Linked DNA regions of Homo sapiens: region 2 is linked to region 1. The links come from fine-mapping of genetic effects on gene expression. Tissue or cell type: sun-exposed skin. Region 1 holds a variant in brackets; the other region holds the start of a gene. All regions are shown on one strand. Distances are between the middles of the regions.

Region 1 (4,352 bases):
GAATAGTATGTTGTTACCGTCTGTTACCTAGAGACTTGAGTAAGGTAAAATAGGTTAATGTTGGTGGCAGGATAACACCTAATTCAATGCACAACTGTCTTAACACATTAAAAATAATTGTTTTATTGAAACTAAGTTCACACAGTCTAAGAAAAGCATTACAAAATCCACTATACTATCTAATGTGCAATTGGTAAAACAATTTACTAAAATTTGAATAATGCACAAGACTATTACTCTGAACATCTATCTCATGCAGCACTTACAAGTTTTATAAGTCAACCACAAAAGTTTCTCTGTGTACTTTCTTCACACACCTCATATTTCAGTGTCCTCAATCTTCTGTTGAAAAGTATGTAAATGACATCCTAATATAGAACTTCTCAAACCCCGAGCAGCAGAAATTGACCACATGCTTTCATACAGACACTAGGAATAAAGACACAGCATCAAGTAATTTGAGAGTTCAATTACATCAAAATTTGCCTTTGTAAAAATCTAAAATTCTTTCAATGCAAAAAGTGTACTTTGAATATAATTGTTTAAGTCTCAAAATATTAATCTCCTATTTCTGTTTAGGCTAACTAAATTATGTTAACCTTGAATTACTCTTTATAATCAATGCCCTGATTTAGAATAACATTGAAAGTGTTAGCGTCTTAGTGGTTTCTACTGTGAATCTTCTGATGTTCATTTAGACTTAATTTTTTATTAATTTTTTATATTTACTGCATCTGTTAAATGCTTTCATATAAACTAGCGTTCTTTCTTTTTTTTTGAGACAGAGTCTCTGTCGCCCAGGTTGGAGTTCAGTGGCGCGATCTCGGCTCACTGCAAGCTCCGCCTCTCGGGTTCACGCCATTCTCCTGCCTCAGCCTCTCCCAGTAGCTGGGACTACAGGCACCCGACAACATGCCCAGCTAATTTTTTGTATTTTTAGTAGAGACAGGGTTTCATCGTGGTCTCGATCTCCTGACCTCGTGATCCGCCTGCCTCGGCCTCCCAAAGTGCTGGGATTATAAGTGTGAGCCACCGCGCCCGGCCTTAAACTAGTGTTTTCTAAGGTGTACTTTTTAAACAATTTTTTTCATATTCATTACAGTTGTAGGGTTTCTTTCCAATGTAAATTATCTAAAATGGAATAAAATTTGAGCAACTGTTAGAGGGTTACCTTTCAGTATAAATTCTCCTATGTACAACAAAATCTGTAACATAAGTAAAAGTATTGCAACAATCTTTATATTTGTAATGTTTTTCTTCAGTATAAAAACTCTTGTGTACTCTAAGGCTTATATTTTTGAAGTCTTTCCATGTACAAATGTAATGTATCACTATCATTACACCTTGTGTACTCTAAGGCTTTTATTTGGTGACATCTTTCCACAGATAAATGTAATGTGTATCATTACACTTACATTGCTTTTATCTAGCACAAAACCTCTGATGAGTAAGTTCATAGTAGTTATTAAATGCTTTGCCACATTCTTTAAAATCAGAATTTTTCTCAGCATGAATTTTCTTCTGTGCAATAAGCTGTCAGCAATGGTTGAAGACTTTCCCCACATTCTTCACATTTGTAGTGTTTCTCTCCAGTATGAATTATCTTGTGATTTCAATGCCTTGAGCAAGATTTATGGAATTTGCCACATTCTTTACATTTGTAGGATTTCTCTTTAGTAAAAATTCTTACGTAGTAAGGTTTGAGCAGTGATTAAAAGCTTCCCCACATTTTTTATACTTGCAGGATTTCTCTCCTCTTTGAACTCTCTTATGTTCATTAAGATGTGAGCACCGTTTAAAAGCTTTGCCACATTCTTCACATTTATAGCGTTTGA[C/T]GGCAGTATGAATTTTCTTATGTCTAGTAAGGTGTGAGCACCGATTAAAGGCTTTTCCACATTCTTCACAGTTGTAGGGTTTCTCTCCAGTATGAATTCTCTTATGTTCAGTAAGGATTGAGGACCAGTTAAAAGCTTTGCCACATTCTTCACATTTGTAGGGTTTCTCTCCAGTGTGAATTCTCTTGTGTTTAGTAAGGTATGAGAACCTCTTAAAGACTTTGTCACATTTTTCACATTTGTAGGGTTTCTCTCCGCTATGAATTACCTTATGTTCAGTAAGAATTGATGATGAGTTAAAAGCTTTGCCACATTCTTCACATTTATAGGGTTTCTCTCCCGTATGGGTTCTCTCATGTATAGTAAGTAGTGAGCAGTGGTTAAAGGCTTTCCCACATTCTTTACATTTGTAGGGTTTCTTTCCAGTGTGAATTGTCTTATGTTTGGTGAGATGTGAGTGCCGGTTAAACGCTCTGCCACAGTCTTCACATGTATAGGGTTTTTCTCCTGTATGAATTTTCTTATGTCTAACAAAGGGTGAACACCAGTGAAAGGCTTTTCCACATTCTTCACATTTGTAGGGTTTCTCACCAGTATGGATTCTCTTATGTTTAGTAAGACTCGAGCACCAGTTAAAAGCTTTGCCACATTCTTCACATTTGTATGGTTTCTCTCCAGTGTGAATTCTCTTATGTTTAGTAAGGTATGAGAACCACTTAAAGGTTTTGCCACATTCCTCACATATGCAGAGTTTCTCTTCAGTGTGAATTATCTTATGATAAGAAAGGCCTGAGTGAGATTTAAAGACTTTGCCACATTGCATACATTTGAAAAGTTTCTCTGTAGTATGTCTTATGTTTTCTCTATTTAGATTTGATGATTTACTAAAGACTTTCACACATTTATTATATGGGAAAATTTTGCTAGGTAGAGTTGACAAACATTGGTTAAGTCCATTATAAATTTCTTTTTGATCCTTACACTCACCCACATTTTCCCCATCCTTCCTTAAGTGTAAATCCTCAAGTCCACAGCTTCCATATCTTCTCAGTATCACTTTTTGGAATGAATCTTGCATGCACTGTTCTGGCAAAAGGTCTTCAGTGTAATGAGAAGACATAGCTGAAATATGAAATTAACAAAATATCCCACTTGTTATTTTCAGACTCAGATACATATACTTTACAAATCTAATACAGAAAATTAAGAAAAGGACAGGATGACTTACTAGATGCAGCTGGGAAACACTCACTCCAAGGAGAGAAAACAAAATGTTGAGTAAAACATCATACTTTAAACAGATCTTTTGAGAAAAAGCTTAATTCAGAGGTAATGCAGAAACTGTGGTTGAAGAGGAAGATGGGAAGCTTGCTCAAAGTCACTGGGCACCAGGACTGGCTCGTAGATCCAGACCAGTCTTATGGAAGGGATATGTGAAGAAACCCCAGGGCAACACAGTCTAGCCATGGACCTCTGAGATTCTCACTTTGGTTCCTTCTCCTTGAAAGGCATTTCCCAGCTAAATCTAGTCTGAGCTCCTGATTATAGACTCTCATATGATCCCTATACATCTGTGAACTGGCAGGGGGAGCCACCTGGAGAATAGGCAGAGGCACAGCTTAAACTCTTGTGGAAATCTGCAGTTTTCACTGTGCTGTGCAGCTGTAGCTGACCATAGGTGCCCATCCTCCGAGGCTCTGCATCTTGCACTGAGGGGATCCATCTGCTGCTGTCTGCCAGGCTGAGAGAGAGCAAGGTTGTAGCTATCATGGGACTGAGGTGAATCTGATCCATGCACCACTTTGCCTGCTGGCACCGTCCAAGATGACCTACCTGGCTGGTCCTGCAGAAGGGTGCCCACAGCATGGCATCCACTTATATCACAGATGGTGCTTGACCCCAAAGGGCCAGAGGACAAATCCATGGGCCCAGTGCCAACTGCCCAGGTCTTCAGCACACTGCCTGATAATATCAAGCTGATATATGTGGTCTGAGCTTAAGTGGGGTAGAAGCCCACACTGTCAGCACACAGAGAAGTCATGGGATCATGAGCCAGCATGGGAGCTGAGTTCCCCTTCATTCACATGAATAAACTGGGAAGGGTGTGGCCAGATGACCAGTCATGGTTTCCATCCCAGGAAGCCTAGCAGCATAGAACATCTGGAAGAACTCAGCAATTTCAATGCAGATGGCTTGGGACAAGCCTAGCCAATTCAGCCTGCTCCCAGGGAAGACACTGGAGACAGACCTGCTGAGTTGGGGGACCACAAGCTGGGTGGGCCCCACAACTACCTGCTGGACTAAAAATCCTGGGCTGCAGGTGCAATACTGGTTGCAAACCCATGGTGCAATTGCCCTGCCTGGTGTTCCATCCTCGAGCCATGGCATCACCAAACGACTCACAGACACATTCCATAACCCATCCTTACTTTTGCAAGCAAAGGAGAACAGCAGGACCCCTGATAAATATGGGTCTCCTGGTGACCTAAAAGTGTGAACTGTCCCTAAGGAAGGGTA
Region 2 (4,149 bases), 32 kb after region 1:
GTCCTAGGTAACTGGGAGGCTGAGGTAGCAAGACTGCTTAAGCCCAAGAGTTCAAGGTTATAGTGAGCTATGATCATGCCATTGTACTCTAGCCTAAGTGAAAGAGTGAGACTCTGTCTCAAAAAAATCAATCAATCAATAATAAAAGTTTTCTAAATTCTATCCTTCAGGAAAAGGCAAAAGAACAAAATGTCTTCCCTCATTTTCAAGTGGGGGAATGAAGCCCCTTATTTCTAATTTGTATTTGCTTCTGCAAAAGGTAGGTCTAGGCCCATGGTCTTGAACTACTGGACATCTGACAACTGAGGGGTGGCGTTGGGCACACTGTGTGCACATAAAAAAAGGGTTTGTGGGGGAACTAAAAGGCAAACGAGGGAAAGTTGCTATCTAGAAGCCATGGGTGGGACAGTGCAGGGTTACGGAAGGACTGGTTCATGCTATAGATTGTGTCCCAGGAGAGGCTATGCTCTGACTTCTTCCTGTGTCCATGCAGGCAGATGAGACTATAATCAGGTGGCACAGAAGCCTGGGTTGGTGAAAAAACCAGGTTGCCAGTACAGACTACCTTTCAAGCTCTACTGATAATTTACACTTAATTAAAAACTGAAGTTAAAATAAGCAAAGAAATCTTTCCAAGGTGACAAACTCAGGAAGCGGCAATACTGATTGGAACACAGACATATCTGACTCAGATGTCAAGTCAAGCCATTCTATCATTTGGGACATTTTCCCGCCCCATCCTGCTCACTGAAGTGGACAATAACCATTCTACCAAGAGCCACTGTGCTGTGCCCCACTGTGTCCCTTAGATGCATTTTGCTTTGCAGGTTTTTGCACTGCCTCACTGGGTTGGGTGTTCCTTGTCCTTGGGGATATTTTTTTTCTCTCTTCACCAATCTGAGAAAATTTTCTCCTCAATACTAGCATCCAAATTGCCTGGCCAGCACTGTATCTCTAAGAAATGGAAACTGGGAGTTGGGGAAGAAAATCTTAATGTCCTAATGGATTTGCTTTCAGAGGAAAGGTATACCTGATTTCTCCCAGGCACAATGCACCAACCACTCCACAGAGAGGCCACATTCCCATACCTGGCAGGGTTGCCCCTGAGAGGAGATGGCCCAGGGGCTGATATTCACTAGACACCTCAGGAGACACAGCCACTGTGGGCATCTCATGTCATCCCCAGACAGTTCTGAAACTCAAAACCAGGAAAATAACACAGGGTGGCTGAGGATGCATTGCCCTGTGAAGTTTCCAAAGTGGAACCTCAACCCAAAAACATTCTGATAAGGTGTCTGTGCCTAGGAAAGATTAAAGGGAGATTGGCACAAAGGTTTTTGTTTTTTGGTCTTTTTTTTTTTCATGGTGGAGTGTTGGGATTATTCTCTGCTTTCATCTCCTGTAAAATGTTTGCAAATGAAAAACAATTCTTTTTCTAAAAAGTGCCATCCGCTGCTCTTTGAAATAATGATCAATCAAAATACTGTGTCTGAAATGTACAAAAAAGGACTAATAGTTGATAATGTTGTGAATTAGAGAGGGGAAGTTGGTGTTGAAGAATGTCAGGAAAGAACTGAAAATTTAAAATTCAACTGCAAGTCAGAGTTAGGCTGGGGCAACAGAGTGGTAGCTTTGAGATTCTGTTTGTCACACATTTGGAAAATCCAAGAGAAAACCACTTCTGTGGAGTGTTAAATAAATAGCAGGCAGTTAGACTGAGGTGGCTCTAGTACCCTGAGTTCCTACATTAAAAAAAAAAAAAATCAAAGGCAAATACATTTCTTGTAAATTGCTACCTTAGGGGGAAACAAAATTCAGATTTTTCAGATTTAAGCAACCACAAACCTTCAATTAACTTCTGATTACATAACCAGGCAATGACAACCTGAATAGTCTAAATAAGATGACTACATAACTGGAACGAGTCAGTTACTGAATTCGGTTTGCTTCATCCTGCACTTTATAAAAAACTTTCCTTCAAGCTCTTCGGCTGGACCCCCAACCACAAACCGTGGCTGGGTGCTCTCTGAGCATAAATCACTGTTAACTTCAATAAGTTTTCAACATTTTAAAGGTGACTCCCATAGTTTTTAAACAGGAGAAGGAAAAGACTGAGGACCCCCGGGATCACAGCACTTCCCACGCACAAACCACACACGGGGTCTGGACTCTGCCCTGAGGACGCTTCCATTGTCCCCGCAGTCGGGGCAGACGCAAGAACGCGCGCGGCTCTTCCCAGGGTGGGCTCCGGGCGGGAAGCGGGAGAACGGAACGGGATGCCCGCCCAGGGTCCCGGCTGCTGGCCCACCTCGCATCCTGTGCCCGGAGGTGATCGACGGCCGAGCTGTGCCTGCCGGGGACTCCAGTCCGCAGACTCCGGAGCTGACAGCTGGGAGGCCCCAGTCCCGTCACTGCCGGTTCCGGCCGGTTTCAACCAGCCCTGCCCCCACCTCGGGATGCGCGGCCTGGCACACTCACCATTTTTCGGCTTCCGGGATGTCGTGGAGTCTTAGCTCTGGATCTCACAGCATCTGCAAGTCAGAGGGCAACAGAGGCTGCGACAGTCACCGGGAACTACTAGAGCAGAGGATACTAAGCAATGAAGATGGACCCTGAGCTCTGGCTGGAGCGAGACAAAGGCCCCGCCAGCTCCAGGACACCGCCCCCTCTACCTTGGCTGCGCACCTGATTGGACAGTTCCCACTCTAGCGCCCATGATTGGATACAGTTCCATGCCCCGCCCCCTCAGGTCATGAGTGACAGGAGGCGTGATCTGAGAATGTGTTGAATAAGGCAAGAGTTACAGGTTTTTCCTGAACCCTTTTCTGGCGCGCTTCCTTCCTGAATTGGAAACTGGCCCTTCCTGGGGAACATTTGCATTTAACTTTGTATATAAAGTTATCTTTATTTGTGAATAGTATACATATGTTATTCACAAATGGAAACAATATAATGACAATTATTTTAAAATCTCAGATTTCATCATTTTCCTAGCCTCCAGTCTTTTGAGCAGGCAGCCTAAGATGTCGCAAGGGAGGCAATTCTCTAAGAAATAAACTGTGAAGCACATATGAATTTTACATTTTCTAGTAGCCACATTTTAAAAAAGAAACCAGGCGTGGTAGCCTGTGCCTGTAGTTCTAGCAACTAGGGAGGCTGAGGCGGGAGCATCACTTGAGGCCAGGAGTTTTAAGACCAGCCCGGGCAACATAGCGATGATCCCATCTCTACAAAAAATAATTAAAAATTTAGCCAAGTCTGGTGGTGCACGCCTGCAGTCCTAGCTACTCAGAAGGCTGAGGCGGGAGGATCACTTGACCCTGGGAGACCAAGACTGCAGTGAGCCACGATCACACCATTGCACTACAGCCGGGGTGACAGAGTGAAACCAAGTTTAAAAAAAAAAAGATCTCTGAAGAAGGCATTTTCTCTTTCTGCAATTTAGCCAAGCAGCTGAGTATGTCTTGAAGTCATCTTCTAATTTTTAACAGGGCAAGGATGTTTTCTAAAACCCCAGTCTCCAGAGTTGCCATGGGGCAAATCCCGGCAGCATACATGAAAATCACTCACAGCTAATGCATTCTTCATCAGATCCAGTGCTTCTTACCCCTGGCAAATAAAAATCACCTGCGGGGTTGGGAGCGGTGGTTCACGCCTATAATCTCAGCATTTTGGGAGGCCGAGACGGGCGTATCACCTGAGGTCAGGAGTTCGAGACCAGCCTGGCCAACATGGTGAAACCCCCATCTCTACTAAAAATACAAAAATTAGCCGGGCATGGTGGCACACGCCTGTAATCCCAGCTACTCGGGAGGCTGAGGCAGGAGAATGGCTTGAACGTGGGAGGCGGAGGTTGCAGTGAGTCGAGATCGCGCCATTGCAGAGTGAGACTTCGTGGGGAGGGTGGTGGTGGCGGCGGGGGGTGTGGAGAATGACTGGAGGGGCGGGGCAGGATGTAAACTTAAAATCCCTGAAGCCCAAGTTGCAACAGACCAATTAAATTAGAATCCTTGGAGTTGGATCTGGGCAACAATATGGTTTAAAGCTCTCAGGGTGATTACAGTGTGTAGCCAAGTACCCAAACTACTGCTTTTCACCAACAGCTTTTTCTTTTTTTTTTTTGAGATAGAGTTTTGCTCTTTTTGCCCA

Evidence for each region. PIP is the estimated chance that this variant, and not a neighbour inherited with it, causes the effect. A credible set is the group of variants that fine-mapping cannot tell apart.
Region 2: ZNF682 starts here. The variant in region 1 is the best candidate, but not a certain one, in a credible set for the expression of ZNF682 in sun-exposed skin (GTEx, PIP 0.63).

Annotation. Positions count from the first base shown.
Region 1 is chr19:20,004,319-20,008,670 of GRCh38, forward strand. It overlaps ZNF682 (zinc finger protein 682), which reads right to left. Exons shown (of 4, transcript NM_033196.3): 4 at 100-2,957. The coding sequence ends at 1,687. It also overlaps the pseudogene BNIP3P12. Among named protein-coding and RNA genes, the nearest start is that of ZNF682, 33 kb to the right of the region's middle. The variant C/T (reference allele first, on the strand shown) is at 1,836.
Region 2 is chr19:20,036,865-20,041,013 of GRCh38, forward strand. It overlaps ZNF682 (zinc finger protein 682), which reads right to left and starts at 2,641. Exons shown (of 4, transcript NM_033196.3): 1 at 2,479-2,641. The coding sequence starts at 2,481. RefSeq lists an enhancer at 2,411-2,987.